5 linked regions of the Homo sapiens genome follow. The protein of the gene in region 1 purifies or fractionates together with the protein of each later gene. This does not show direct contact. Each region holds a gene or a part of one and is shown on either strand. Other genes may lie near its edges.

Region 1 (6,030 bases):
TGTGCTCTTTCGCAAGAACAGTAGATAAGCTGGAAATCCTAGCGGCATTCCTGGAACCAGGGTTCATAGAGGCCAACGTGGTGGATTCGCATCCACGTGGTCAGGAAGGGGAGCAGGGAGCACCCCGCTTCAGAACAGTCCTCCACGCCAGCCCCACAGGGAGAAGGGGGTGGAGAATGTGGGCCCAGCAGGCCCCAGGCAGATGTGTGGGCTGGGCGTCTGTGGCTCACAGCTGTCTCTGTACCTGGTGTTTGGGGCAGGACCCGCAGGCCTGTGCGGTGGGATGTCCCATGCCAGAAACCCCGGGGTGGGCACCACCTGAGGTCCCTCCAGAGTACCTCAGTCCTGTTCACGCCCCTGTGCCCTCTGCCAGCTGGGCCTTCAGCCTGGACTGGTACTTCCGCCTGAGAGACTCCTGCTCAGGAGCTGGGCAGATGCCCCGGGAGTGCCCCTCGCCCACACTGCCCTCACACCTGCTTCTGGTTTTGCAGGCACGGCTGCCATACGGTGATTGCCAGTAGGAGCCTGCCGCGAGTGCTGACGGTGAGAGGGCCTCTCCCATGGTCCCCTGTTCGGGTGGCTGTGGGGGGGCTGGGGCTGGGCCTGGGCCAGGAGAGTCCAGAGGCTATGGGGATGTTGGCACCAAAACTTTTTTTTTCTGAGACGGGAGTCTCGCTCTGTCACCCAGGCTGAAGTGTGGTGGTGCGATCTCGGCTCACTGCAGCCTCCACCTCCCAGGATCAAGCGATTCTCCTGCCTCAGCCTCCGGAGTAGCTGGGACTACAGGTGCCCGCCACCACGCCTGGCTAATTTTTGCATTTTTTTGGTAGAGATGGGTTTTCACCACGTTGACCAGGCTGGTCTCGAATTCCTGACCTCAGGTGATCCGCCCACCTCAGCCTCCCAAAGTGCCAGGATTACAGGTGTGAACCACTGTGCCCGGCCGGCACCTCAGCCTCCCAAAGTGCCAGGATTACAGGTGTGAATCACTGTGCCCGGCCGGCACCTCAGCCTCCCAAAGTGCCAGGATTACAGGTGTGAACCACTGTGCCCAGCCGGCACCAAAACTTGCACCTATCCTAAATATGGAGCTTCAGTGTAAGTGGCCTCCCAGAGACATCTTTGACTTTTTAAAAAATCTAGTTATTGGGTTCTGGGAGGGACCTTCCTGTTTGGGGGTAATGTGGCCCCAAGAAAGACCTCTGGGCTCACCTGGGTTATTTAGGTGGTCCGTGCGTCCCACCTACTGGAGCCCTCGACCTGGGAGGAGAGTCTCACCTGTGCCACCTCTGGTCTGCAGCAGGGGCAGGACATGGGTGACAGTGGCCTGGAGGGCGACGCAGAGGGAGGATTCTAGGACAGGTGGCAGGTGGGGGGAGAGCGTGGCAGGTTCCCACAAACATCCACTGGGGTCGTGGGCACTTGCAGGCTGTGCTTCCCCAGAGTGGGGTCCAGCAGCAAACCCAGGGTCCCCGAGGAACCCGGAAGCATCGTCCTCTGCAGATTCCAAAGGCCTTTTCTCCAGGCCGAGGCTGCAGGGCTGCTGTCTGCCTCTTTACCTGGCTTCTAGGCCGCCAGGAAGCTGGCTGGGGCCACCGGCCGGCGCTGCCTCCCTCTCTCTATGGACGTCCGAGCGCCCCCAGCTGTCATGGCCGCCGTGGACCAGGCTCTGAAGGAGTTTGGCAGAATCGACATTCTCATTAACTGTGAGTCGGTGCTGAGTGAGGTTGGTGGCTTCTCACAGGTTGGTGGTACCATTTGGAGGCCCTAGAACTCTGGTCATGGGGTGGGGACCATGCCAGGGAACCTAGCTGCCTGTGCTGGGGTGGGCTGCACCCCATCCAGGTACCTGAGGCCAAGACTCAGGCTCCGGCCCCCTGTCTCCGGCCCCATCTCCGGCCCCCTGTCTCCGGGCCCCTGTCTCCGGGCCTCTGTCTCCGGGCTCTGTCTCCGGGCCTCTGTCTTCGGCCGCATCTCCGGCCCCCTGTCTCTGGGCCTCTGTCTCCGGGCGTCTCTCTCCGGCCCCATCTCCGGCCCCCTGTCTCCGGGCCTCTGTCTCCGGCCCCATCTCCGGCCCCCTGTCTCCGGGCCCCTGTCTCCAGGCCTCTGTCTCCGGCCCCCTGTCTCCGGGCCCCTGTCTCCGGGCCTCTGTCTCCGGCCCCCTGTCTCCGGGCCCCTGTCTCCGGGCCTCTGTCTCCGGCCCTCTGTCTCCGGGCCCCTGTCTCCGGGCCCCTGTCTCCAGCCCCCTGTCTCCGGACCTCTGTCTCCGGGCCCCTGTCTCCGGGCCTCTGTCTCCGGCCCCCTGTCTCCGGGCCTCTGTCTCCGGGCCTCTGTCTCCGGCCCCCTGTCTCCGGCCCCCTGTCTCCGGGCCTCTGTCTCCGGGCCTCTGTCTCCGGCCCCCTGTCTCTGGGCCTCTGTCTCCGGCCCCATCTCCGGCCCCCTGTCTCCGGGCTTCTGTCTCTGGCCCTCTGTCTCTGGCCCTCTGTCTCCAGGCCTTTGTGTCCCGCCTTCTGTCTCTGGCCCTCTGTCTCCGGCCTGACTCCGCTTCTCTGGGTGGCAGCAGGTCAGCACAGCTGCAGCCCAAGTGGACGCCATGAACACAGCTCAATGGTAGAGTCGGGTGCCCTTGTGTCCTGAAATTCCGTCTTTAAAAAAAAAAGTAATAGCCTTTTTTTTTTTTTTAGACAGCATCTCACTCTGTCACCCAGGCTGGTGTGATCATGGCTTACTGCAGCCTCCACCTTCTGGGCTCAAGCCATCCTCCTGCCCCAGCCTCCTGAGGAGCTGGGACTACAGACGTGTGCCATCACGCCTGGCTAATTTTTATATTTTTTATTTTTTGTAGAGACAGGGTCTTAGTGTGTGTTGCTCAGGCCAGTCTCAAACTCCTAGGCTCAAGCAATCTTCCTGCCTTGGCCTCCCAAAATGCTGGGATTACAAGCAAGAGTCATCAATAAAATAGAAGCTAGCCTGGCCTAGCTTTTTTTTTTTTTTTAGAGGGAGTTTCGCTCTTGTTGCCCAGGCTGGAGTACCATGGTACAATCTCAGCTTACAGCACCCTCCGCCTCCCGGGTTCAAGCAATTCTCCCGTCTCAGCCTCCCAAGTAGCTGGGATTACAGGCGCCCGCTACCACACCTGGCTAATTTTTGTATTTTTAATAGAGATGGGGTTTCATCATATTGTTTAGACTGGTCTCGAACTCTTGATCTCAGGTGATCCGCCCGCCTTGGCTTCCGAAAGTGCTGGGATTACAGGCGTGAGCCGCCGCGCCTGGCCCCCAGCTTTTATTTTTATTTCTTTATTTTTTATTTTTATTGATTTTTATTTTTATTTTTTGAGAGAGTCTTGCTGTGTCGCCCAGGCTGGAGTGCAGTGGCGCAATCTTGGCTCACTGCAAGCTCCGCCTCCCGGGTTCATGCCATTCTCCTGCCTCAGTCCCCCAGTAGCTGGGACTACAGGTGCCTGCCACCACGCCTGGCTAACTTTTTGTATTTTTACTAGAGATGGGGTTTCACCATGTTAGCCAGGATGGTCTCGATCTCCTGACCTCGTGATCCGCCCGCCTCAGCCTCCCAAAGTGCTGGGATTACAGGCGTGAGCCACCACGCCTGGCCGATTTTTTTTTTTAAATCACAGTTTTAGGTTTATAGAATAATTAATAGTATATGGAATTCCATACTCCCACCTACAGTTTTCCCTGTTAACATCTTGCGTTTGTTACAATTGATGAACCAACACTGGTTTCACTCTGCAGAAATTCCCTTTTAAAAACATCCTGTGTATTAGTTTCCTGGGCTAACAGAGTACTACGACCTGTGTGGGTAAAACAACCGAAATATAATCTCCCAGTTCTGGAGGCCAGAACGTCCAAGGGGAAGGCGTCGGCAGAGCTATGCTCTCTGAAGGCCCCAGGGGAGAGCCTCTTCCTGCCTTCTGCGTGGCTTCGGGTACTGCCATAGCCCTTGGCCCTCCCGGGCTCGGAGACCGTCGCTGCACTGTCTGCCACTGTCTTCCCGTGGCGTGTGTCTGTGTGTCCTCTTCCCTTGTTATAAGGATGCTGGTCATTGGATTTAGGGCTCACCCTAATTCGTTGTGACTTCAGTGTAATTCGATTATCTCTGCAACCCACCCCATTTCCAAACAAGGCCACAGTCGCAGGTACGGAGCCAGGGCTTCAGCATGTCTTCTCTTCTCGGGGACACAGTGCAGCCAGGACGCCCGTCTTGCTCTGGTCATTTTGGAATTTATCCTAGGGCATGGGTCTCCTCCCTGTGCCACAGGGCACCTGGGCTCCCTCCTGCACCCTCCGCTCTGCCCACCTGGCCACCACCCACTTGGCATCCCTCTCCCCAGGCTCCAGCAGCTCCTGCGGTCTCCCATTCTGCAGGTGCGGCCGGGAACTTCCTGTGCCCCGCTGGCGCCTTGTCCTTCAACGCCTTCAAGACCGTGATGGACATCGATACCAGCGGCACCTTCAATGTGTCTCGTGTGCTCTATGAGAAGTTCTTCCGGGTGGGTGCCTCGTGCGCTCTGTGAGAAGTTCTTCCGGGTGGGTGCCTCGTGCGCTCTGTGAGAAGTTCTTCCGGGTGGGTGCCTTGTGCGCTCTGTGAGAAGTTCTTCCGGGTGGGTGTACTCCCAGCGGGGGCCTCCCCCTGACGGCCGCCCGCTCCCTGCCCTGGGCCTCCCCATGACGGCCGCCCGCTCCCTGCCCTGGGCCTCCCCCTGACGGCCGCCCGCTCCCTGCCCCGGGCCTCCCCCTGACAGCCACCCGCTCACTGTCCTGTGACCTCCCCCGACACCCGCCCGCTCACTGCCCCGGGCCTTGTGTGTTGCAGGACCACGGAGGGGTGATCGTGAACATCACTGCCACCCTGGGGAACCGGGGGCAGGCGCTCCAGGTGCATGCAGGCTCCGCCAAGGCCGCTGTGGGTATGACCACCCCCCCCCGCCCAGGTTTGCCCACGTGGGTCCCCAATGGGCCGTCTGCTTCCATCCCAGGAGGCCAGCAGTCTCCACTTGAAGCTGAGCCCAGCTGCAGGCAGCGAGACCTGGCCTTGGCCCTGCGCCCTCGCAGAGGGCAGAGCGGCCCTTTCATATCCAACTTTCTTCTGTGCAGACGCGATGACGCGGCACTTGGCTGTGGAGTGGGGTCCCCAAAACATCCGCGTCAACAGCCTCGCCCCTGGCCCCATCAGTGGCACAGAGGGGCTCCGGCGACTGGGTAAGGCTCTCAGGGAGCCCAGGCCTCCCACAGATCCTCTCCTGGGGCACAGGGTGCCCATGAAGCTTCCAGAACCTTGGCAGGGTGTATGTTGAAAAGCCCTGTGCTGGTTCCATGGTGGCAACTATGTTCTGTGCCTGGCCTGATCCTGCTCCATGCTAGGCCTTGGTGACACTGACTGTGTCCTTGCTGTTCCCAGATGCCTCTCAGGGAATGAGCTGGGGGAGAGGGGAGGGTGCTGGGTCTTGGGGCTCACGGGGCCTGAGCCTTCTGCTGCCCTCCAGGTGGCCCTCAGGCCAGCCTGAGCACCAAGGTCACTGCCAGCCCGCTGCAGAGGCTGGGGAACAAGACCGAGATCGCCCACAGCGTGCTCTACCTGGCCAGCCCTCTGGCTTCCTACGTGACGGGGGCCGTGCTGGTGGCCGATGGCGGGGCATGGTTGACGTTCCCAAACGGTGTCAAAGGGCTGCCGGATTTCGCATCCTTCTCTGCTAAGCTCTAGGTGAGGTACTGCTCCCGCTTCTTGGGGTCATCTGTGTCCTTGGACGCTGGTCACTGCATGGGCAGGTCTCTGCGGGACCCACGGGGCTGGCGTCTCCTTTGTCCCCATCCTCCCGGCCCCTGCGCCAGCCTGCCCACACATGGGTGCTGCCCAGTGGGGCTGAGCAGGAGGCGGGCGCTGGTGTACTTGCTCTTCTGTAGCGGCCTCGGCCTCTGCCGGCATTTCTGGCAGGTGCTGGGTGGCCGAGGCAGCCGAGGTGTTTTAGGGGGAAGCCGTCCTCAGCCGGCTACTAAGTTCTGAAACTCC
Region 2 (6,030 bases), on another chromosome or scaffold:
GCTTTAAGGCTGGAGTCCTGCTCTCCTTTCCTTTTTTGACCTATATGGGAGCACTTCTGTTCGAGTCTTATCTCAATTTGAAGGAACAGTGCTTTTGGATCAACTCTGCCGAATAATTGAGCAGTAGCCCATATTTCTGCCTGGGACACCTTCATTGAGGGTCACGAGGGAAAGAGAGAACACGTGTAAATATTATGATGATGATGTTAACAACTATTTACCAGTTTCATACAATTGACAGTTTTTTTTAGCCGGGAGGAGTTCAGTATTGACTCATTGGGCATCTTATGTAGGGTGTTTTTGCACACCTAGACTTTAGGATCTGGAAAGACAACTGAAAATCTTGAAGCCCACTGCCAAACATTTGTGGATCTTGGGCCAACTGCTAAGGAAGATCTAGACTATGACTTGGTCTTTAATTATTTTTATTTTTTTCTCCTTTATGTATGTATGTATTTATTTATTTATTTTTTGAGATGGAGTCTTGCTCTGTTGCCCAGGCTGAAGTGCAGTGGCGCGATCTCAGCTCACTGCAACCTCAGCCTCCTGGGTTCAAGCAATTCTCTGCTTCAGCCTCCCAAGTAGCTGGGATTGCAGGTGCCTGCCACCATGCCCAGCTAATTTTTGTATTTTTAGTAGAGATGGGGTTTCACCATCTTGGCCAGGCTGGTCTTGAACTCCTGACCTCGTGATCCACCGACCTCGGCCTCCCAGAGTGCTGGGATTACAGGTGTGAGCCACCGCACCTGGCCTCTCCTTTTATTTTTATTTTTTTGAGATGGGGTCTCACTCTGTTGCCTGGGCTGGTCTCAAACTCCTGAGCTCAAGGGATTCTCGTACCTCTGCCTTCCTAGTAGCTGGGACTACAGACACGGCCTCCGTGACCACTCTCTTCTCTCTTTTTAAAAATTAAGGAATGTTGCTGACATGTGCAGTTCTGAGTCTCAGAGAGGAAGTCAAACAGAACATGTAATCTGGTGATACTTGTGTTTTCTTTGGGTCACTGGTTTAGTTATCTATTCTGTTTCCTTTCTTCTTTCCACCTCACCTTTCCAGATGCTCCACTGTATCTTTAGGCTGCCATTGCAGATTGCTGGGCCCACAAAACCCTTAGGTTGTACTTTCTTAGCTGTCATCTCTTGAAAAGCCAAAGTTCTGGCAGTTGCTATTAGAAACCAGTTCCTGGCTGAGCGCGGTGGCTCACGCCTGTAATCCCAGCACTTTGGGAGGCTGAGGTGGGCAGATCACGAGGTCAGGAGATTGAGACCATCCTGGCTAACACGGTGAAACCCCATCTCTACTAAAAATACAAAAAAAATTAGCCGGGCATGGTGGCACGCGCCTGTAGTCCCAGCTACTCAGGAGGGATTTTCCTACTAAGGCAGGAAAATCGCTTGAACCCAGGAGGTGGAGGTTGCGGTGAGCTGTGATCGTGCCATTGCACTCCAGCCTGGGCAACAAAAGTGAAACTCCATCTCAAAAAAAAAAAAAAGAAAAGAAAAGAAAAAAAAGAAAGAAGCCAGTTCCTTGGTGTAGTTAATTTACTTTGAGAGGTATTTGCCAGTTGGGATATGTCCTAAAAAGTGACTGACATTTTATTCAGGGCCTGGTATATCTTGAGCTCAGTGCTAGCTAGTATTTTTACTTTATCCAGTGTAACCTTCATGACTGTCCTGTGAGGTGAGAATCATTTTCCCTATTATACCTATGAAGAAACAGATTCAGAGAAATTAAGTTATTTGCTTAAGGTCACACAGCAAGTAAGAGGAAGGACTGGAATTCAAACCCAGGTCTCTCTGCTCTGTGATATTGAATTGCCTCTGGGACTGTGACACATGAAGAAGAACTGAAAAGACCAAGGCTAAGAGCCTGGGGGAACATGATACCTCATTCAAATACTTGAAGATTGTCATGGGGAAAGGAAACTGGATGTTCTCTGTGATTCTAGAAGGCATCTCAGGATTAAATGACATAATTTCCAAGAAGGTAGACTTTGGTTTGATAGGAGATAATGTAGCTTTCTAAAAACAAAATGGGCTGCCTTGTGAGGGAGTGAGTTACCCATCATTGCAGATATTCAAGCAGAGAGTTTGCCACATCTTTTTTTTTTCTTTGAGACAGAGTCTTACTTCGTCATCCAGGCTGGAGTGCAGTGGCATGATCTCAGCTCACTGCAACCTCTGCCTCCCAGGTTCAAGTGATTCCCATGCCTCACTTCATCTTCCAGGCTGGAGTGCAGTGGCATGATCTCGGCTCACTGCAACCTCTGCCTCCCAGGTTCAAGTGATTCTCATGCCTCAGCCTCCCAAGTAGCTGGAATTATAGGCATGTACCACCACGCCCATCTAATTTTTGTATTTTTGTAGAGATGGGGTTTCACCATGTTGACCAGACTGGTCTTGAACTCCTGACCTCAGGTGATCCGCCCGCCTCAGCCTCCCAAAGTGCTGGGATTACAGGTGTGAGACACCGCGCCCAGCCCCGGCTAATTTTTTTGTATTTTTATTAGAGACAGGGTTTTGCCATGTTGCCCAGGCTGGTCTTGAACTCCTGAGTTCCACCTGCCTCGGTCTCCCAAAGTGCTAGGATTACAGGCATGAGCCACCGCTCCTGGCTTTTTTTTTTTTTTTTTTTTTATGAGACAGGGTAGATGGGAAGACAGGTGTGTGCCATCACGCCTGGCTAATTTTTTAATTTTTTCATAGAGATGGGGTTTCACTATGTTGCTCAGGCTGGTCTCAAACTCCTGGGCTCAAGCAGTCTGCCTACCTCAGCCTCCCAAAGTCCTGGGAATACAGGTGTGAGCCACCATGCCCAGCCTCCCTGTCTGTTTGATCTGTAAAACCTAACATGGCTTGGCACGGTGGCTCACACCTGTAATCCCAGCACTTTGGGAGGCCTAGGTGGGTGGATTGCTTGAGCCCAGGAGTTTGAGACCAGCCTGAGCAACATAGTGAAACCCAGTCTCTACAAAAAGAAAATTTAAAAATTAGCCAGGTGTGGTAGCATGTGCCTGTATTCCCATCTACCCAGGAATCTGAGGCGGGGGCATCACTTGAGTGCAGGAGGCAGAGGTTGCAGTGAGCCAAGACTGCGCTACTGAACTCCAGCATGGGCAACAGAGACCCTGTCTCAAAAAAAAAAAAAAAAAAAAAAAGCCAGTTGTGCAGTGGCTCATGCCTGTAATCCTAGCACTTTGGGAAGCTGATGTGGGCAGAGCTCAGGAGTTGGAGGCCAGCCTGGGCAACATGGCAAACCTGTCTCTACTAAAAATACAAAAAATTAGCCAGCCGTGGTGGTGCACACCTGTAATCCCAGCTACTTGGGAGGCTGAGTCATGAGAATTGCTTGAACCTGGGACGCAGAGGTTGCAGTGAGCCAAGATCGTGTGCACTCCAGCCTGGGGGACAGAGTGAGACTCTGTCTCAAAAAAAAAAAAAAAACCAAAAAAACCCAAAAAAACTAACATGTATTGAATATTTAGTATATACCAGGCACTTGCTAGATACTTTTTCTTTCTTTTTTTAAGACAGAGTTTTGCTCTTATTGCCCAGGCTGGAGTGCACACGATCTCTGCTCACTGCAACCTCCGCCTCCTAGGTTCAAGCAATTCTCCTGCCTCAGCCTTCTGAGTAGCTGAGATTATAGGTGCGCGCCACCATGCCTGGATAATTTTTGTATTTTTTTAGTAGAGATGGGGTTTCACCATGTTGGCCAAGCTGGTCTCGAATTCCTGACCTCAGGTGATCCACTCACCTTGGCCCCCCAAAGTGCTGGGATTACAGGCATGAGCCACCAGGCCCAGCTCTACTTTTTCTATAATGTCTCTTATAATCTTCAGAGCTCCCCTGGAAGGAAGGTATTACCATTATCCCCACTTTACAAATGAGAAACTGAGACTCTAGACTAAAGTTAAGGAATATGCTGGAGGTTACACAACTAGTAGTGTAGGGCTGATATTTGAACCCATGTCTCCTCCTTAGCTCTGTGACCTAGGGCCAATCATGTATCCTCTCAGAGCTATAGTTTCACCTATAAAATGAGGCTTATTGTAGTACCTACTTTTTAGTGGGTTTTTGAGGACTAAATGATGAAATATATCCTTTTTACTAGACCTCACTGATTGCCCTCAAGAGCCAGGGCTTGGATGTAAAGGAATACCACTTAGTTGGCTTCTTCTGGGTAAATTCAGGCCTATGTGTAACTCTGAGAGTTCTAGGGCCCATTCTTTGAGCTATTAAGTAATAGCTGCTGACTCCTTGAAGGGCTTTGTGGCATTGAAGACTAATACCTTAAAAACTTTTAAGCCTGGGCTGGGCGCAGTGGCTCATGCCTGTAATCCCAGAACTTTGGGAGGCTGAGGTGGGCGGATCACAAGGTCAGGAGTTTGAGACCAGCCTGGCCAAGGTGGTGAAACCCTGTCTCTACTAAAAATACAAAAATTAGCCTGGCGTGGTGGCGGGTGTCTGTAGTCCCAGCTACTCAGGAGGCTGCGGCAGGAGAATCGCATGAACTCAGAAGGTGGAGGTTGCAGTGAGTTGAGATCGCAACACTGTACTCCAGCCTGGGTGACAGTGAGACTCCATCTCAAAAAAAAAAAACAAAAAAACTTTAAGCCTGAATAAGGGGAGGATGCAGTCAAAAGGCCAGAGTGTATAGGAGGCAGTGTCAGAGGCCCTGTGCAAAGAAAATTCTCAGCTACTACTGCAGAGCCAGATTTGAGGGTCACCGTTGGCATTTTTGTATTTATTATCTTCTTTTAGGATACAAGGTCACAACTGCTAGAGCTGTAACAGAGCTCAGTGCCAAGAATAATGACCCTTAATCCTCCGTATAGCCATCTGGGGAGGTATTAACCCCATTTTCTTGGAGATGGGGTGGAGAACAGGATCAGACCTTGCCCAGGGAGCTCTCCAGAGGCTGTTGAGGGCAGTGTTTGGATCAGGACTTTTGTACAATTTTGTCCTTATTCATGACCCCCCAAATTCTATAAAACTGCTTATCCTTGAACCTCTTAGGGGGCCTTCCTGAGAATGGGAGCTAGGCATTCATGGTCAGGGAGCTTCATAGTTGAGGCCTGAGTGTTTGGGTGCTGATGGCCTACCTGGTTCCCTTTTGAGTTACACATCTGGATATAACACTACTGTCACTGAGTTAGAAAGGAAACATTTCTAACTTGAATGGTTTAGTTTTCCTTGACCTTGCAGCTAGTAGTAGAGTTACAGGATGAAACTCCAGAGCCTTCTCTACAAGAGATATTTTGAATTGTGGCAGGATTTGTCAGGATGCAAGTTAAAGACTGCAGATGCTTTTAAATAGTGAGAGAGTATAGCATTATCAAAATATGCTCCCTTTTCTCTGTTTCCTTCCACTATCTTAAGGTAATTGTGAGGCCTAAGAGCAGACAGGAAAATTAGCTATGATCACTGGAAAACAAAGTTCTGAAAACATCCAGAAAAAATTTTCACAAAGCTCAAACAAGTGGCTGGGTGTGATGTCTCACACTGTTTTTTTTTGTTTTTTTTTTTTTGAGAGTCTCGCTGTGTCACCCAAGATGGAGTGCAGTGGTGCAATCTTGGCTCACTGCAGCCTCAGGCTCCTGGGTTCAAGCGATTCTCTTGCCTCAGCCTCCTGAGTAGCTAGGATTACAGGCGTGTGCCATCACGCCTGGCTAATTTTTGTATTTTTAGTAGAGACGGGGTTTTACCATGTTGGCCAGGCTGGTCTCCAACTCCTGACCTCCAGTGATCCTCCTGCCTTGGCCTCCCAAAGTGTTGGGATTACGGGGATGAGCCACCGTGCCTGGCCAGATGGTTCACACTTGTAACCCTAGCACTTTGGGAGGGTGAGATGGGAGGATTGTTTGAGGCCTGGACTTCAAGAACAGCCTGGGCAAAATGATGAGACCCCCATCTCTACAAAAAATAAAAATAAAAGTAGCCAGGCATGGTGATTTGCACCTGTAATCCTAGCTACTCAAGAGGCTGAGGCAGGAGGATCCCTTAAGCCTAGGAGTTCAAAGTTGCAGTA
Region 3 (6,030 bases), on another chromosome or scaffold:
TGCCTCTTCATCAATGCTGCACATTTAAGTCCTTCGTGGAGATGGAAAAAGTGTAGTCCAAGTGTTTCCTGTTCACAAACGGGACTGTTTTTCAAGACGAGTTTCCACATGTAGCGTTTTCTGCCCCGAATTCTGAAGTTATTTAGAGAGAGGTTTCCCCTTTCTTTAATTAGGAATCTGTGTTTTTTGCTAAAAAGTAGTGAATTTCTTGTGGCAGCATATATATATTTCTATTTCTTATTTTTTTGAGACAAGGTCTTGCTCTGTCACCCAGGCTGGAGTGCTGTGGTGTGATCTCGGCTCACTGCAACCTCTGCCTCCCGGGTTCAAGCGATTCTCCTGCCTCAGCCTCACAAGTAGCTGGTATTACAGGCGCACGCCATCACACTCGACTAATTTTTATAGTTTTAGTAGAGACGGGGTTTCGCCATGTTGGGCAGGCTGATATCAAATTCCTGACCTCAGAGGATCCGCCCACCTTGGCCTCCCAAAGTGCGGGGATCACAGGTGTGAGTCACCGTGCCTGGCTTATAGCTATTTATTGATTGACTACTGATATATGTTAGTCACTGTGCTGGGATAAAGTGGTGGACAAGACAGATGAAGGGCTGGTTTGCTTTCTGTGTGGGAGACAGACAACAAACATGTAAACCAGCAAGCATCAGGACCAAGATGATGATAAATGCTCTGAAGGAAATACACAGAATGAAGAGAGACTAACTAGAGGAAAGCACATTGCATAAAATGGTCAGGAAGGAGCTCTCTGAAAAGGAGGCATTTGAGCTAAGACCTGAAGGAGGATAAGGGATCAGTCATGTGAAGGCTTCTGGAAAGAGCTTTCCAGGAACTGGCAATGATACTATAAACACCCAGAACTGGGAAATAGCTTTGTGCGTTAAAAGACCAGAAAGGCCCTGCATGGTGGCTCACGCCTGTAATCCCAGCTACTCAGGAGGCCGAGGTGTGCAGATCACTTGAGGCCAGGAGTTCGAGACCAGCCTGGCCAATATGGCAAAACCCCATCGCTACTAAAAATACCAAAATTAGACGCATGTGGTGGCACGCGCCTGTAATCCCAGCTACTTGTGTGGCTGAGGCAGGAGAATCTCTTAAACTCAGGAGGTGGAGGCTGCAGTCAGACAAAATTGTACCACTGCACTCCAGCCTGGGCGACAGAGTGAGACTCCATCTCAAAAAACAACAAAACAGACTGGGCTCAGTGGCTCACACCTGTAATCCCAGCACTTTGGGAGGCTGAGGTGGGCAGATCACCTGAGGTCAAGAGTTTGAGACCAGCCTGGCCAACATGGCAAAACCTCATCTCTACAAAAATACAAAAATTAGCTGGGTGTGATGGTGGGTGCCTGTAATCCCAGCTACTTGAGAGGCTGAAGCAGAAGAATCATTTGAACCCAGGAGATGGAGGTTGCAGTGAGCCAAGATCATGTCACTGCACTCCAGCCTGGGTGACAGAGTGAGACTCCATCCCAAAACAAACAAACAAACAAACAAACAAACAAACAAACACAAAACAAAAAACCCAGAATGCTGGTATAGCCAGACTGAGGCAAGTGAGGGGGACAGAGGGGTGAGGACAGAGAAGAGCAGCCACGTCGTGTTGGTTCTTATGGGTAAGGCATTTGGAGTTTATTTGGGAAGTCATGAGAGAGGTGTTTTTTTTTTTTTTTTGAGACGAGTCTTGCTCTGTCGCCCAGGCTGGAGTGCAATGGCGTGATCTCGGCTCACTGCAACCTCTGCCTCCTGGATTCAAGCGATTCTCCTGCCTCAGCCTCCCGAGTAGCTGGGATTACAGGCACCCGCCACCATGCCCAGCTAATTTTTGTATTTTTTTAAATAGAGACGGGGTTTTACCATATTGGCCAGGATGGTCTCGTACTCCTGACATTTGATCCGCCGGTCTCGGCCTCCCAAAGTGCTGGGATTATAGGCATGAGCCACCGCGCCTGGCTTAATTTTTGTATTTTTAGTAGAGACAGGTTTTGCCACGTTGGCCTGGCTGGTCTCAAACTCCTGACCTCAGGTGATCCACCTGCCTCAGCCTTCCAAAGTGCTAGGATTACAGGCGTGAGCCACCATGCCAGGCCATGAGAGAGGTTTTTTTTGTTTGTTTGTTTGAGACAGAGTCTTGCTCTGTTGTCCAGGCTGGAGTGCAGTGGCACCATCTCAGCTCACCGCAACCTCCGCCTCCCAGGTTTAAGTGATTCTCCTGCCTCAACCTTCCGAGTAGCTGGGATTACAGGCATGTGCCACCACACCCGGCTAATTTTTTTGTATTTTTTTAGTAGAGATGGGGGGTTCATCATATTGGCCAGGCTGGTCTCGAACTCCTGACCTTGTGATCTGCCCACCTTGGCCTCCCAAAGTGCTGGGATTACAGGCATGAGCCACTGCGCCCGGCCAAGAGAGTTTTAAAACAGAAGAGTGAATGGTTTATGGGTGGGCAAGAGTGAAATCCAGGGCCAGGCACGGTGGCTCACGCCTGTAATCCCAACACTTTGGGAGGCTGAGATGGGTGGATCACCTGAGGTGAAGAGTTTTAGACCAGCCTGGCCAACATGGTAAAACCCTGTCTCTACTCAAATACAAAAATTAGTTGGGGCTGGGTGCGGTGGCTGACTCCTGTAATCCCAGCACTTTGGGAGGCTGAGGCAGGTGGATCACCTGAGGTCAGGAGTTCGAGACCAGCCTGGCCAACATGATGAAACCCCATCTCTATTAAAAATACAAAAAATTAGCTGGGCGTGGTGGCGGGCGCCTGTAATCCCAGCTACTCTGGAGTCTGAGGCAGGAGAATTACTTGAACCAAGGAGATGGAGGTTGCAGTGAGCCAGGATTGCACCACTGCACTCCAGTCCAGGCAACAGTGTAAGACTCCGTCTCAAAAAAAAAAAAAAAAAAAAAAGATTGGCTATAGTTTTCTCCCACCCATCCTAATCAGGTTCTGCCTCCATCGCTTCCTGAAAGTGCTCTTGTCAAGGTCACTAATGTCCTCTTGGGTCATTCTCCTTTTTTTTTTTTTTTTTTTTTTTTGAGACAGAGTCTCGCTCTGTCACCCAGCTGGAGTGCAGTGGCGCCATCTCAGCTCACTGCAAGCTCTGCCTCCCGGGATCACGCCATTCTCCTGCCTCAGCCTCTCCCGAGTAGCTGGGACTACAGGCGCCCGCCACCACGCCTGGCTAATTTTTTGTATTTTTAGTAGAGACGGGGTTTCACCATGGTCTCGATCTCCTGACCTCGTGATCCTCCTGCCTCGGCCTCCCAAAGTGCTGGGATTACAAGCATGAGCCACCGCGCCCAGCCCCTCTTGGGTCATTCTCTAAATTCGCCTCACTGCATCTCTTAGCAGCATGAGTCACTGTCTCCACCTCCCTGCGCTGGAGCACTCAGGCACTCAGGGCTCTGCTGGGCCTTCTCCTCCTCCATCAGCACTCTTTCTTTTTTTTCTTTTTTTTGAGACGGAGTTTCAAAAAATCAGACCCACCAAGGCATGTGGCAGTTGTGTTGCTCTTTGCTCGGTACCCGCTAGAGGTCTGTTGCCATTAATTTGAAATGAGACCAGTTAGTGTGACTGTGCATCTTTCCTGGCAAGTTAAATGACTATAGTTTCTCTGTTTGTAAAATGGGGATGATTATAATAGCACCTGCCTCACAGAGTTGTGAGAATTAAAATAATCAGTAATGAATTAAAGCACTTAAGGCCGGGTGCGGTGGCTCACGCCTATAATCCCAGCACTTTGGGGGGCCGAGGCAGGTGGATCGCCTGAGGTCAGGAATTCAAGACCGACCTGGCCAACATAGTGAAACCCTGTCTTTACTAAAAATACAAAAATTAGCCGGGCTTAGTGGCGGGCGCCTGTAATCCCAGCTACTTGGGAGGTTTGAGGCAGGAGAATTGCTTGAATCCAGGAGGCGAAGGTTGCAGTGAGCTGATCGCACCACTGCACTCCAGCCTGGGCAAGAGAGCAAGACTTAGTCTCAAAAAAAAATAATAAAATTAAAAAAAAGTACTTAAAACAGCACCTAGCATATAGTAAGTGTTCGGTAAACACTAGTAGTCACTGGTATCAGTTGTGTGCAAGCCAAGAATAGGAGGATGGTATGGTTGAGGTTTACCAGGAGAGAAAGACAAGGGTATCCTGAGAGTGTCTTCAAGAGTGTGCATGCCATGGTGGACTAGAATCTACAGTGGGTAAGGAACTGGACTGTAAATAAGTTTTTGATGAAGCTGAATAAATTGTCATGGTAGAAATAGCAGAGCAGGGTCAGGCCTGGTGGCTCACGCCTGTAATCCCGACACTTTGGGAGGCCGAGGCGGGTGGATCACCTAAGGTCAGGAGTTCGAGACCAGCCTGGCCAATATGGTGAAACCCCGTCTCTACTAAAAAAGATACAAAGTTAGCCAGGCATGGTCGTGATTATGATATTAATGATTATAATATTAAAACATTTTAAAAAATATATCTTGCAATACAGATAGTCAATTTGTTTTCTTTTTTTCTTTCTTTTTTTTTTTTTTTTTTTGAGACAGAGTCTCGCTCTGTGGCCCAGGCTGGAGAGCAGTGGTGTGATCTTGCCTCACTGCAACCTCTGTTTCCCGGTTCAAGCGATTCTCCTGCCTCAGCTTCCTGAGTAGCTGGGATTACAGGCACGCACCACCGCACCCGGCTAATTTTTGTATTTTTAGTAGAGATGGGGTTTCGCCAAGTTGGCCAGGCTGGTCTCAAACTCCCGACCTCAAGTGATCCACCCATTTCCGCCTCCTAAAGTGCTGGGATTACAGGCGTGAGCCACTGCTCCTGGCCAGTCAGTTTGTTTTCAAAAGATTTTTGTGGCTGGTGTGGTGGCTCATGCCTATAATCCCAGCACTTTGGGAGACCAAGGTGGGAGGAATGCTTGAGCCCAGGAGTTTGAGACCAGCCTTGGTAACACAGCCAGATCCTGTCTCTATCAAAAAAGTTGGGCCTATGGTCCCAGCTACTTGGGAGGCTGAGGTGGGAGGATCGCTTGAGCCTGCGAGGTTGAGGCTGCCATGACCTTTGATTGCACCATTGTACTCTAGCCTGGGCGACAGAGTGAGACTCTGTCTCAAAACAAACAACCAAAACCTTTTTGTGCTTTTTTTTTTTTTTTTCCTGCTAGTGTACCAGTTCTATCGCAACCTCTCTCATTAGGTATTTTCATTTTTAGTGTCTACAAGCTTAGCATTTGAAATAGATAACTTTTTTTTTTTGAGATGGAGTCTTGCTGTGTCCCCCAGGCTGGAGTGCAGTGGCGCGATCTCAGCTCACTGCAAGCTCCGCCTCCCGGGTTCACGCCATTCTCCTGCCTCAGCCTCTCGAGTAGCTGGGACTACACGCACCCACTGCCACCACGCCAGGCTAATTTTTTGTATTTTTAGTACAGTCGGGGTTTCACCATGTTAGCCAGGATGGTCTCGATCTCCTGACCTCGTGATCCGCCCGCCTTGGCCTCTCAAAGTGCTGGGATTACAGGCGTGAGCCACTGCACCCGGCCTTAAATAGATAAAATTTGTATAGGTCAGAAAATTGGGGAAGGGTGTATTTGGGTATTTCCATATACTTGTGTGTACTGAGTCTTCTTCCCAATATAGTTTCTCGGGTTTTCTCCTTTCTTTTCCACCTTTTCACAGAACTTTCTGCAAGTCTCATTTCCAGCTCCCCAGCGTCTTTCCTGAGTACTTGCCCTGCCCCGTGGGTCTTGCAGGAAGCCTTTACTCCTCGTCTTGCCCTCTCCAGGAGACACTTTGCATCCTCTGTACCCTTTATCTCTCAGGGTGGGGACGGGGAATGTCCTCATTCCCAAATGCTGTAGCCACACAATTGCTCTTTCGTCTTTGTGAAACTTTTCCCTTGAGGCTTATGCTGATTCTCTCTCCCGCTGACGACGTTGGCACTGTACAGCCTTCCGGTGCTCTCCTGTTCGCCCGCCATTTTGGTGACCTCAGGTATCCAAGCCAAAAGCCAGGGTCTCTCTCATCCTTTAATCTTT
Region 4 (6,030 bases), on another chromosome or scaffold:
CTATCTGCTTGAGAACTGAATGGAACACCACACGAAAGCTAACCAGTACACTGCTGGCCCTGAAGCAATGCTGGCTGAATCGGGATATTTACAAGTATTATTATTATTATTATTATTTATTTATTTATTTATTTATTTTGAGACAGAGTCTTGTTCTGTCGCCAGGCTGGAGTGCAGTGGCATGATCTTGGCTCACTGCAACCTCCGCCTCCTGGGTTCAAGCAATTCTCCTGCCTCAGCCTCCCGAGTAGCTGGGACTACAGGCACATGCTACCACGCCCAGCTAATTTTTATATTTTTAGTTAAGATGGGGTTTTGCCATGTTGGCCAGGATGGTCTCGATCTCTTGACCTCGTGATCCGCCCACCTCAGCCTCCCAAAGTGCTGGGATTACAGGCGTGAACCACCGCGCCCAGCCTAAAAATATTATTAATCTTGAATCACCTCTCCAGTACTTACTGACTTTTTTCATTTTACAGTAATTTTTAGGATATTTACCTTAAGGAATTTTGCCATTTGGAATCTGCTCATTAGTGTTGTAATTAACAAGGGGCAGGAAATGGCTGCTTACACCTCGACAGCTTGTTGGGGTTCCTTATATTTGACTATTCTGATAGTGGCATGTGTAAAAGTAGGGTGTGAACCTCTGTTCCCTAATGAGGTGCTCTTTTCGATCTGGAAACAATGCTGGACATCCTATGTTAGATACCCGAGTGACTAATTCCTGTGCAGGACGGCAGGAGGCTGCAGTGAGGAGGAAGAGTCATTCATATTCCACTGGGTGCGGTGGCTCATGCCTATAATCCCAGCACTTTGGGAGGCTGAGGTGGGAAGATCACTTGAACCCAGGAGTTTGAGACCAGCCTGGGCAACATGGCAAAACCCTGTCTACAAAAAATTGGCTGGGTATGGTAGTGTGTGCCTGTGGTCCCAGCTACCCAGGAGGCTGAGGTGGGAGCATCATTCATACTCTCTTCTATGCTGGTAGCTGTCTGCTGAACTGATACGAGATCATGTGTGATGTATGATGGAATGAGGGTGAAGAGTGAATCTAACTGGCTGGAATGAGAAGTACTCTCCATTTGCACCATGTTATAAATAATGAGAGTAACTGACAAACCCCAGGATCCTCAAAAATATTAATTTACTGGATGGGGCATTGCAATAAGAAGCACCTCAGCCAGCTGCGGTGACTCATGCCTATAATCCCAGCACTTTGGGAGGACAAGGCAAGTGGATCACCGGAGGTCAGGAGTTTGAGACCAGCCTGGCCAAAATGGCGAAACCCTGTCTCTACTAAAAATACAAAAAAAATTAGCCAGGCATGGTGACACGCACCTGTAATCCCAGCTACTCAGGAGGCTGAGGCAGGAGAATCACTTGAACCCAGGAGGCAGAGGTTGCAGTGGGCCGAGATTGAGCCATTGCACTCCACCCTGGGCAACAAGAGCGAAACTCCATCTCGGGTTAAAAAAAAAAAAAAGAAGCACTTGTAATGGAAGGCCGGGGTGAATCTATTTTCTTTAAAATTTATTTCAAAAGAATTGCATTCCAATAGCCATGGAATTATATCACTAAGGGTAAAGTGTTTTATTGCTGCTAGCCTTCTGAATTTCTACCACTCTGCATGTGATTTAATAAGGATATTTTCTCATCAACCACTGACTTGACACTAACACTTCTTTACACAGACCCAATGCACAATCTGTGCATCTAAACACTGCCATTTCCAGGAATGGAGCAATCCATTCTGAAAACATCAAAAATGTTTGTGTGCTGAGAACTATCACTAGTTTTATGTTAATGAACTTCCTCATTTTCCACCTAAGTTGGCAAGAACTGGCTGTTTATGGGATTTCTCCAACTCCCTACCACCACCACAAATTCAGGCTGCTACTTTAAGTTACTACCAAGTTCTCATTTCCCAATTCCTCTCTATTGTCTTAGAACTCTGTTAAATGCCAGCTCATGGTGACGGATTAGCTCTGCCAGAATACCCCGAGTAACTGGAAAAAGACACAGGGTTCTGCCCCTGGAGGCTGATTCAGGTCAGTCTGGGACTCAGAAAGCTGTACTTTTAAACACACGTCCCATGTGACTGAGATCAGTTTGGGAATGGCCAGTTCAGCTATTGGGCTTGACAGCCAAGCTGTCATGTGGCCTCCCTCCCTGTGAGCTACTCACCACACCACTGGGAAGAGGATGGCACCACAACACAACAGGTCGACCAGAAATAGAGAGTCCTTCCACAAGCCATATTCAGTCGTGCCCTCCTCGGTGGACTCTATGATGATGTAGGCTACATTTGCCAGGACCTACAGACATGAGAAGTTGCTGAGGCCCCAAAGCATGGGTGGACTGTTATGATGCTAGCAGCCCCAATGTGGGGTGTACACCTTGGCCTCCAGACCCACGATCTGCGACCACAGCATTCTTTCCAGTCCCACGTGCTCTTCCAGAACTCTGCCACTCCGCTATCAAGGAGAGTCTCTATGCCACCCCCCTGAATCTGCACAGGCCGTAATTGCTCTAATACAGTAAGATGGAAGTACTGCTGTGTGATTTCCAAGGTAGATAAAGCTTCCACCCAGCTCTCTTGGGACCTTTGGAGCCCTAAGCCTTCTTGTAAGAAGTCTGGCTACCCTGAAACTACCCTGCTGTACAGACCATGCAGAGATGGAAAGGCCCCCCCAGGAGCCCCGGCTGTCCCAGTCCCCACCTGAGCAAGCTTCTCAGCCCAGAAGACAGATGCGAGTGGAGACTTCAAGATGCTCCCAGCCATGGTGTGACTATGACCACAAGACCCAAGTCAGACCTACCCAGCTAGCCACTCTTGAATTCCTAACCCACAGAAACTGAGAGAGAGAATGACGGGTTATTGTCGTTTTAAGTCGCTGAGTTTTGGGGTGATTTGTTATGCAGCAGTAGATAACAGGGACACTTTGCTTTTCAGGTACCCCAAACCCAGTGGAGTCACTCAGGTGCTGGACTGCTGGATAGGTGGCACTTAACACCCTATTTAGCCACAATGCCCATACTTTTCAGGCCATGGTGCTCAGTGACAATAACTCATCTAAGTGCCAGACAATGGAACTGTGTTTTCAGAGACCAGAGGGTGAGCATGGCTGATTCCAGCCCTACAGCCTCATATACTCAGGCCCACTATTAAGCTCTGTACTCAGGCCCGTTATTAGGCTCTTAGCATAAGTCTTTATAAAAAGTCTTTCCACTGGCTAAACTGAGATGCCACAGAGCATAAGGGAAATTTACCACTTATAATACATCCTTTTGAAGATTACCACTGGGAATGGATGCAGAGGTTATCATTCCACCTATATACCCCATGAGAAGTCCCTGGTCCCAAATCTCTGCCTGACTTGCTGTAAAAGGTAATCCTCCACACTTTGCATGTAAAATCTGTAGTGCTATTATTTAGGAAGTCTCTAAGTTTAATTTCTCTTTCTATACAGGACTTAGAATCAAATTATCCGAAATTTCATTTAAAACTAATGCAAAAATTATCTGAAATTTCAGCCTCTCCAATGACCCCCAGCTTCTGGGTCCTTCCCTGTCCCACACTGCTCGTGAAGCCCTGTCTATCCAAAACACTAGCATCTGTGGCTCCATCTAAAAAGACAAAGTAGGGCTGGGTGCGGTGGCTCATACCCATAATCCCAGAAATTTGGGGAGCCAAGGCAGAAGGATTGCTTGAGCCCAGGAGTTTGACACCAGCCTGGGCAAAATAGTGAGACACGGCCTCTAATTAAAAAAAAAAAATTAAAAATTAGTCAGGTGTGATGGTGTACGTCTGTGGTCTCAGCTACTCGGGAGACTGAGGCAGGAGGATCGCCTGAGCCCAGGAGTTTAGGGCTGCAGTGAGCCATGATCACCACTGTACTCCAGCCCGGGCGACAGAGTGAGACCCTGTCTAAAAGTAAGAGGACAAAGTAGAAAACAAAGGCTTTCACATCTTAAATTCAAAATTCCATTTTGTCCTTAATTCACACACTGCATGAGAGACAGAATGTTCCCAGTGTTGAACAACGTGCCAAGAGTGTTCCTGAAACACCATTTTGCAGGGACATCATCTACTCCTTACTTAGAAACTTTCTGTCACTGCCCATGGCCAAAAGGAAGCAGTTTTAACTTTTCAGGCTGACATTTAAGGCCCTCCCAGACTAGTTCTATTGTCTAAATACTCATGACTTTCTTAATTTGTTAAATGTCCTTATCTTCTCAGACTGACATTCCATGGAACTCTGTGTGTCTGTCTTTCAGGGAAGCCCAGGACGGGCTTCCTGGAAGGCTATGCCCCACGACAGCCTGGTTCAGGCTGGTGGGGGGAGACTCTAGAGGGATGAGGGACTCTACTAAAGGGAAGAGGCACACGCAGCCGGGTGACAACCCAGTCTCCGTCATTCACAACTCCGAGACCTCGGCAGGCTGTAGGACTCAGTCTGGCTGAAGAAGTGACCACGGTGGCTCGACAGCCGAAAGACCGGCACAGTCCCTCAGCATGTTTTGCTTAGCAGACAGCAGGGTCATGTGTATTTACTGCCTCTGTCACATTCCTTTCCTTCAACACCCAGGCCAGCCCTATCTCTGTCACAAAGCCCTCCTTGATCCTTCCAACTTGAGTGCTTATTCTCTCCTTGGAAACACAGAGCAACTGGCCTGTCCCATTCATTTGATGTCAACACATGTTCCTCATTATTGAACGTAAGGGTGGATGAGGTCTGTTAGAACTCCGAGAGGAGCTCTGCTGCAAACTCTGCCAGAGTTGGGACGGCTGATCTGGGTGCCTCAGGAGTTGTCCCCTTCCACCCCCAACCTTCCACATTTACTTTGTGCTCCAAAATGTGAGAAAAGTTCACAGGGACAACTCTGTCAAACAGACGCTGTCTGGTCAAGCAGAGCAGGGTAGCTGTGCATCCCTGCTAAAACCTCTCTGTTCATTGTAAGTTCTTTACATCCAAGTTCTGCTTCCAGTAAGACAAGGCTCCTCCCGCAAAAGACTCACAGCCTTGTAAGGCTGGCCTTGGCCCTCGGCCCCAAACATGGTAAGGATTTAGGAAATGTTTGCCCCTCACGTCTACTACCATATTCTACCTGTGGAAACTCACTGGTGTAGTTCACGGTTTTAAAATACTTTGTTAATAAAATCACTACATCTCTGAGCTTCCTTGCCAAGGGCACCATTTAGTTATGAAGCAAATGATGCAGAAGAGAAAACAGTACTGTGTGTTACTGTGTGTCTCCCTGTCACTGTCAGCAGCTCTCTACTCAAAATCTAGGCCCCCAAAGGCCAGTGGCTGACTGATGCCCAAGCATCTCCCAGTGCAATGACCTGAAGTCTGTTCAGAATTCAGAAAGAGAATCTCAGTCTTCAACCTCCACTAGCAGAAGCTGGGGTTTCAGGGTGAGGTGACTCCCTCTTCCCATACAGGCTTGGAGCTGAGCCCTGCTAAGCGCCAAGAAAGGAAGTGACAAATGGGATGAGGGTTCTTTTACCTGGAGTGGAATGACAATCATGAAGATCTTTTTGTCTTTATCAGAAAGGATGTGCTTAATGAAAGCCCAGCCAGTGCCAATGAGTGCAATGGTGATGAAGAGTAGCGCCCCTTTCAAACTGGAAGAGAAAACAAGGAACAGACACCAGCAGGTCTCTTTAGACTCTCACTGCCAGTTAGATTGCATAGCTCATTCTATGAGTTCACAAGCTTCTTACAAAAGACGGGCAGCCAAATTTAGGAAATCCATCATACATGAGCACCACTTCCTTCAGGGCACACAGTTAGCTCTGCACCCCACAGCCTGGACAGCCAATGGCCGCAGAGAGGCAGGAGTATGCCACTAAGCCCGACTTCCCAAGTCTGGACAGCCACCCATGAGCTACACTCCTCTGGTATGGCAGGGGCCCAGACAGGCTGCCACAGGAGGGCAGGGCTGGTTAACTTGGGGCAGGTTGTTGCCCACCCCCCTTGTCTTGTATGTCATTTCATGGTGTATTTCACATGGACCTGCATACTT
Region 5 (5,286 bases), on another chromosome or scaffold:
GTCCCCTGGAGCCCCTCCCGCGGGCAAGGCAGACAAAATGATGAAGTCATTCAAGTAGGTCCTCCCTGGCACCCTGGGACCCTTTGGGGAACTCACTGGCTCCCCGGGGAGTAGGACTGAGTGGTAGGGTTGAGGGGAAGGGGCTTGCCGGCTTGATCCAGCTCTGGGGGAGACAGGCTTTCACAGAGGGAGCTGGGTACCTGGCAAGCAGCTACCCTCACAGGGAGCAGCTGCCCTAGGGGGAAGGCTAGGTGGGGTGGAGATGGGGGCTGGAAGGGACCCTGGCCCCGGGAAAGAGGGTGGGCCTCCTTCCTGGGCGCCCCAGCTGGGCTCAGCTGCAGACTGGGCCCAGGGCAGTAAACAAAGGCCGCCTGGCCCAGCTTCCCCCAAGGTTCCCAAGCCTCTCAGTGCCCTCACTGTGTTTCCTCCCTCACCCCTCAGGCCCACCTCAGAGGAAGCCCTCAAGTGGGGCGAGTCCTTGGAGAAGCTGCTGGTTCACAAATGTAAGTTGGGCCTGCCTGCCCACTCCCTGTGCCCTCTCTCCCTCTCCCCTTCGCCCCCATCCAGACCCTGTGTAGCTGGTGCTAGAGAGGCCGCCTTCCCTCTCCTCGGCCGTCAGGGTGTCCTTGCTGTTGCGGAGGGGCTGAGCCCAAGCTGAGGCCCTTGGTCTGGCCTTGGAGCCAGCTTCTGCCAGCCCCTCCCCGTCCATGTGAGCTGGCACTGCCTGCCGGAGGCCCGTGGGACCTGTGTGCTCAGATCCATATTCCCAGAATAAGAATAAACATTTCTACGTACTGAGGGCTTTCACGGCGCCAAATGTGCCTGCCATCTCATGGGCAGGGTCCCATCGGCTCCTCCCAGGGCTCCGGGAGACAGAATCGATAGTCCCCATTTCACAGATGAAGACACTGAGGCATAGAGAGGGGGAGACCCCACTGAGACCCTGAAAGAGGCAGTGGCAGGGCTGGGGCCACATCCCAGGGCTCCTGGCTGTCGGGGACGGGCATTGTACTCAGCTCCCAGCACGCCCATCTTTAAAGTCCTGTAGGGGTAAGCTGAGGCATCTTAAGGGCAGGAGAGGCTGAGTTTGCCTCTTACCCCAGGATCCGTTCTCCTCACAGACGGGTTAGCAGTGTTCCAAGCCTTCCTTCGCACTGAGTTCAGTGAGGAGAATCTGGAGTTCTGGTTGGCTTGTGAGGACTTCAAGAAGGTCAAGTCACAGTCCAAGATGGCATCCAAGGCCAAGAAGATCTTTGCTGAATACATCGCGATCCAGGCATGCAAGGAGGTAGGACCTCAGGGCAGACCCTCCGCTCCTCCAATCCCCAGGGCCCAGTGGCCCTTCAGCTGCAAGGTGGCAGCCAGCAGCACAGGAAGGGGAGAGGCCAGAATGACTCCATGAGCCCAGGTACCCAGCAGGGAAGATGCAAGCTAGGATCAGGGGAAGAACAGAATCCCAGTTAGTAATAAAAATGGCCACCACCAAGGCACTGCCGCATGCCAGGCATGTGCTGAGCCCTTTATGTATGCGTTCTCATGTTTAATCCACACAACAACCTGTGAAACGAAGAGACAGGCTGGGCACAGTGGCTCATGCCTGTAATCCCAGCACTTTGGGAAGCCGAGCCAGGCGGATCACTTGAGGTCAGGAGTTCGAGACCAGCCTGGCCAACAGGGCGAAACCCCATCTCTACTAAAATTACAAAATTAGCCAGGTGTGGTGATGGGCGCCTGTGGTCCCAGCTACTCGGGAGGCTGAGGCAGGATAATCGCTTGAACCCGGGAGGCGGAGGTTGCAGTGAGCCGAGATCGCACCACTGCACTCCAGCCTGAGTGACAGAGACAAATCATAATTGCTCCCATCTATTGAGTGCCTACTGTGTGCCAGGCACTATGCGCAAAGCACATTATATGGATGATCTTGCTTGGTTTTCACGCTTTGAGGAATGTACTATTATTCCTAGCTGGTAGATAAGACAACTGAAGCTCACCGCACTTAAGTAATTTGCTTCAAGTCACACACCCAGGTGTGGCACTGCTAGGATTTGAACCCAGGAAGCCTAACCCTCAGGGTGGTATTTTCAGCCTTATAAATGCTGCCAGCCCTACAGGAAATGACTGAGCCAGGACTTGAATCCTCTGGTCTGAGGGTCTCTACTTCAGATGAACCTTAAGATGTGGGGCAAAGGGGCTTGGAGGTGAGAGGCTGGATGGGTCCCTTCCAGGCACATGGGCCCTAGGGTCAGTCCCCAGCAGGCAGCCCTGACCATGTCCCCCTCTGCCTCCCCAGGTCAACCTGGACTCCTACACGCGGGAGCACACCAAGGACAACCTGCAGAGCGTCACGCGGGGCTGCTTCGACCTGGCACAGAAGCGCATCTTCGGGCTCATGGAAAAGGACTCGTACCCTCGCTTTCTCCGTTCTGACCTCTACCTGGACCTTATTAACCAGAAGAAGATGAGTCCCCCGCTTTAGGGGCCACTGGAGTCGAGCTCAGCGTTCACACCAGGCGGGCTGGGTCCCCTGCCCACCTGCCTCCCTGCCCCCTGTGACGGAGGGGGCAAGCAAGCCCCCAGAGGCTGTGTCTCTGGACAGACGGATAGACATACGGAAGCGAGGCCTGGACCAAGAGAGGCCCAGGCTACTGGAGGAGTAGAAGGATGGGCCCCGTGGGGTCCCCACTGCCCCGGTACGAGGGGGCCCAAGACCCTGGCAGGTCAGGGGCCCTGGCCAAGCCAGATCTGGAGCTGCTGCTCCCTGCTGCGGAGACCGCGGAGGCTTCGCGTTGACCAAGTTCCTTAAAGAACTGGCTGATGGGGCAGGAGGTCCAGGCCTGGGCTCTCGGGCCCTCCTAGAGGGCCATTGGAGCTTGCAGCTCAGACCCCCACTTTGAGTTTTATTTATTTAAATAGTAGTTGGATGCTTGGCACGTCGTCCTGTAATAGGAAACCCTTGCCTCATCAGTTTTCCTGATTTACAAGTGCAATATTTTAGCCAATGCCTTGGGAGAAGCTGCCATGCAAAGGTGGACACCATTCTCCAGCTTCAGGGGATATGCTCGTCCCGGGCACCGGTGGCAGGCAGCTGGCCTTCTGGACTAAGGCAGCCTGGGGGGACACTGCAGTCTGGCTACACACAGAGATCTGGCACCCCCTGGGTGGAGTGTCCCTCGGGGGCTTTGGGAAAGCATGGCACCCTCAGACCACACAGTAGCCAAGTTCTGGAGCAAATAAAAGGCCTGTGTTATTTCTTGTTCTTGACCCTTTTTGTGTGTTCCTGGTCTTGAGCCTTCCCAGGGTGGCTGGGGCTGGGAGGGTTGGTCGTTGGGCTGTTGATTCAGCCACTGCTCTCTTGCCATCACCTGCCCCCATCCTGGAGCCCGATACACTGATACACTGGTGAGGGCTGCTCTCCCATGCCTTCCTCTGTGCCAGGCACTGTGCCACTCATCCTAGTGGTCACTGCATCTCCTCCCCAAGCCTGGGAGGTAGGGCTTATCCCCATTTTACAGATGAGGAGATGGAAGCACAGACAGGGAAGGTCACGTAGCCAGCAGGTGGCAGGGGTTCAGCCCAAGTCTGACTGTCTGCAAAGCCTGGGCTCTGCCGGCTACAGGATGGAGTCCTTGCTTATCGCCAGCTGGCCACATGTCTTTCAGCAAGTTCCTTCAATTCTCTGCCTCGCCACACCCTGAGGTTTGAATAGAACTTTCACGTGGTGCAGGGATGGCTGGTGAAGGTAGACGGGGCCAGAATCTCAGGAAGGGTGGTGGTGGGCTTATGGAGGCCTCTGGGCAGAAGGAACAGCTGTGGAGACAGGAGATAGGACTCACAGAGTCTTTCTGTGGCCCTGGGTAAGGCTTTCCCCACTGTGCCTTTGTTTCCCCTCCTACCTAACAGAAGATGCGAGTTTAGGAAAGGCCCAGGGCATCCTTCAAGGGAGGACCTGGGCCACTTGCCTAGAAGTGGGCAGAAGAGGCCCAGAGTCCAGGCCAAGCTGAAGGCAAAGCTGACCCCACATATATAACCTCCCAGGGGCCAGGGCATGGCCCAGGGTGGGGTCTGGCTCAGCAGGGCTGTCTTAGATTAAGCTAGATGGAGTTGATGCAGGAGGAGCTGGGCCCCGTCTCCTTGGATCTTGTTCCCTGCCTGGGGTCCTGCAGACTTGGAGCTGCAGACGACATGGGGCTGTACAGCTCCCTCCTCCCTGCCTCCCCTTACTCATCTCCCTGGGCAAGGCCAGCCCTGTTGGCCCCTCTGCACAGTGAGAGGATCAGAATTGTTGGTCTCTGGAGGCCTTCAGGGAGTTGGACTGAGCCCTCTTCAGGGTTACAGGGGACTAGAGCCAGGGCCTGGGTGTGGAGCAGAAGCTGAGCAGGGCTTCATCAGGAGGAAGAGGTGGGCTGTCTGACTGCCGCTCTGACCACACCTGACTTTTCCTGCCCCGCTTGCAAATGGGACCCCTAATGCTTGCTCACCCTTGAAACCCATTTGGAAGAATCTTCTGTGCAACAACAGTAGCCTAGGTCAGCAGAGAACCCCCTTCCCTCTGCTCCCCGGCAGCCGTGGCCTCTCCTTGACTAGCCCGTACTGAGTCAGGCATGGGTTTTTCTGTCTCCAAAGGCTTTGGAATCAGGCAATCCTGGGTTTGAGTCTTGTCTTTGCTACTGACTTGCTCTGTAACCTTGGCAAGTCACTGCCCATCCCTGAGCCTGCAAAAATGGGGATGATTCTATTGTCTTCTCAGTGCTGGGATGAACAGCCAGTGAGCCAGTTCTGCAGAAAGGTCCTAACCTGGGGCCAGGTATACCGTAGGTGCTTGATACATGTTGGCACCAGAGGGTGAGCCCCTCCAGGAGTGGTGCTGGGTCTTTCTCCAGGACCTGGCAATGAGTGTCATTGGGCTTTATAAACTGTGAAGAGCTTTCCCACTGTAGAGATTCAGTGTCTCACAGAGGCTGGAAGGGCCTGGGAAGAGTCGTGCTTCTAATTCTGAACAAGGGCACCTTCCAGGTTTTTTCCAGGCCTGAGATTTGGGGACCTGACAGCTGGGAAAACTGGGGCCCAGGGAAGACTATAATACTACTCCCTACTCCCCCAAAATGGTAGAGGCAGTACTGGGTCTGAGCCCAGGACTTCCCTGCCTGACCTGGCCTCTCTCGCATCTTCTGCTGGGAGGAGCCACTGGGTCCACAAGGAGACCCACCTTTCCAGTTCTTTATATTCTAGGGATTCAGTTTAGGGCCAGGCCTTCCCTCTTCCACCTTCCCAACCTCCTGGTTCCCA

Evidence for each region.
Region 2: the proteins of DECR2 (region 1) and WDTC1 purify together in Homo sapiens (affinity purification with mass spectrometry; one large-scale study listed by BioGRID and IntAct). This does not show direct contact.
Region 3: the proteins of DECR2 (region 1) and WRAP53 purify together in Homo sapiens (co-immunoprecipitation; one large-scale study listed by IntAct). This does not show direct contact.
Region 4: the proteins of DECR2 (region 1) and GPR107 purify together in Homo sapiens (affinity purification with mass spectrometry; one large-scale study listed by BioGRID and IntAct). This does not show direct contact.
Region 5: the proteins of DECR2 (region 1) and RGS3 purify together in Homo sapiens (co-immunoprecipitation; one large-scale study listed by IntAct). This does not show direct contact.

Annotation. Positions count from the first base shown.
Region 1 is NC_000016.10:405,855-411,884, forward strand, and holds part of DECR2 (peroxisomal 2,4-dienoyl-CoA reductase [(3E)-enoyl-CoA-producing]), read left to right. Parts: intron 1-491; coding exon 492-543; intron 544-1,570; coding exon 1,571-1,706; intron 1,707-4,388; coding exon 4,389-4,513; intron 4,514-4,836; coding exon 4,837-4,930; intron 4,931-5,117; coding exon 5,118-5,222; intron 5,223-5,506; coding exon 5,507-5,724; intron 5,725-6,030.
Region 2 is NC_000001.11:27,236,384-27,242,413, forward strand, and holds part of WDTC1 (WD and tetratricopeptide repeats protein 1), read left to right. Parts: intron 1-6,030. UniProt on the Homo sapiens protein: May function as a substrate receptor for CUL4-DDB1 E3 ubiquitin-protein ligase complex.
Region 3 is NC_000017.11:7,689,720-7,695,749, forward strand, and holds part of WRAP53 (telomerase Cajal body protein 1), read left to right. Parts: intron 1-6,030. UniProt on the Homo sapiens protein: RNA chaperone that plays a key role in telomere maintenance and RNA localization to Cajal bodies. Specifically recognizes and binds the Cajal body box (CAB box) present in both small Cajal body RNAs (scaRNAs) and telomerase RNA template component (TERC).
Region 4 is NC_000009.12:130,100,705-130,106,734, reverse strand, and holds part of GPR107 (protein GPR107 isoform 3 precursor), read right to left. Parts: intron 5,630-6,030; coding exon 5,512-5,629; intron 2,316-5,511; coding exon 2,185-2,315; intron 1-2,184. UniProt on the Homo sapiens protein: Has been proposed to act as a receptor for neuronostatin, a peptide derived from the somatostatin/SST precursor.
Region 5 is NC_000009.12:113,594,478-113,599,763, forward strand, and holds the end of RGS3 (regulator of G-protein signaling 3), read left to right. Parts: coding exon 1-54; intron 55-441; coding exon 442-503; intron 504-1,121; coding exon 1,122-1,288; intron 1,289-2,290; coding exon 2,291-2,476; 3' UTR 2,477-3,261; downstream 3,262-5,286. UniProt on the Homo sapiens protein: Down-regulates signaling from heterotrimeric G-proteins by increasing the GTPase activity of the alpha subunits, thereby driving them into their inactive GDP-bound form.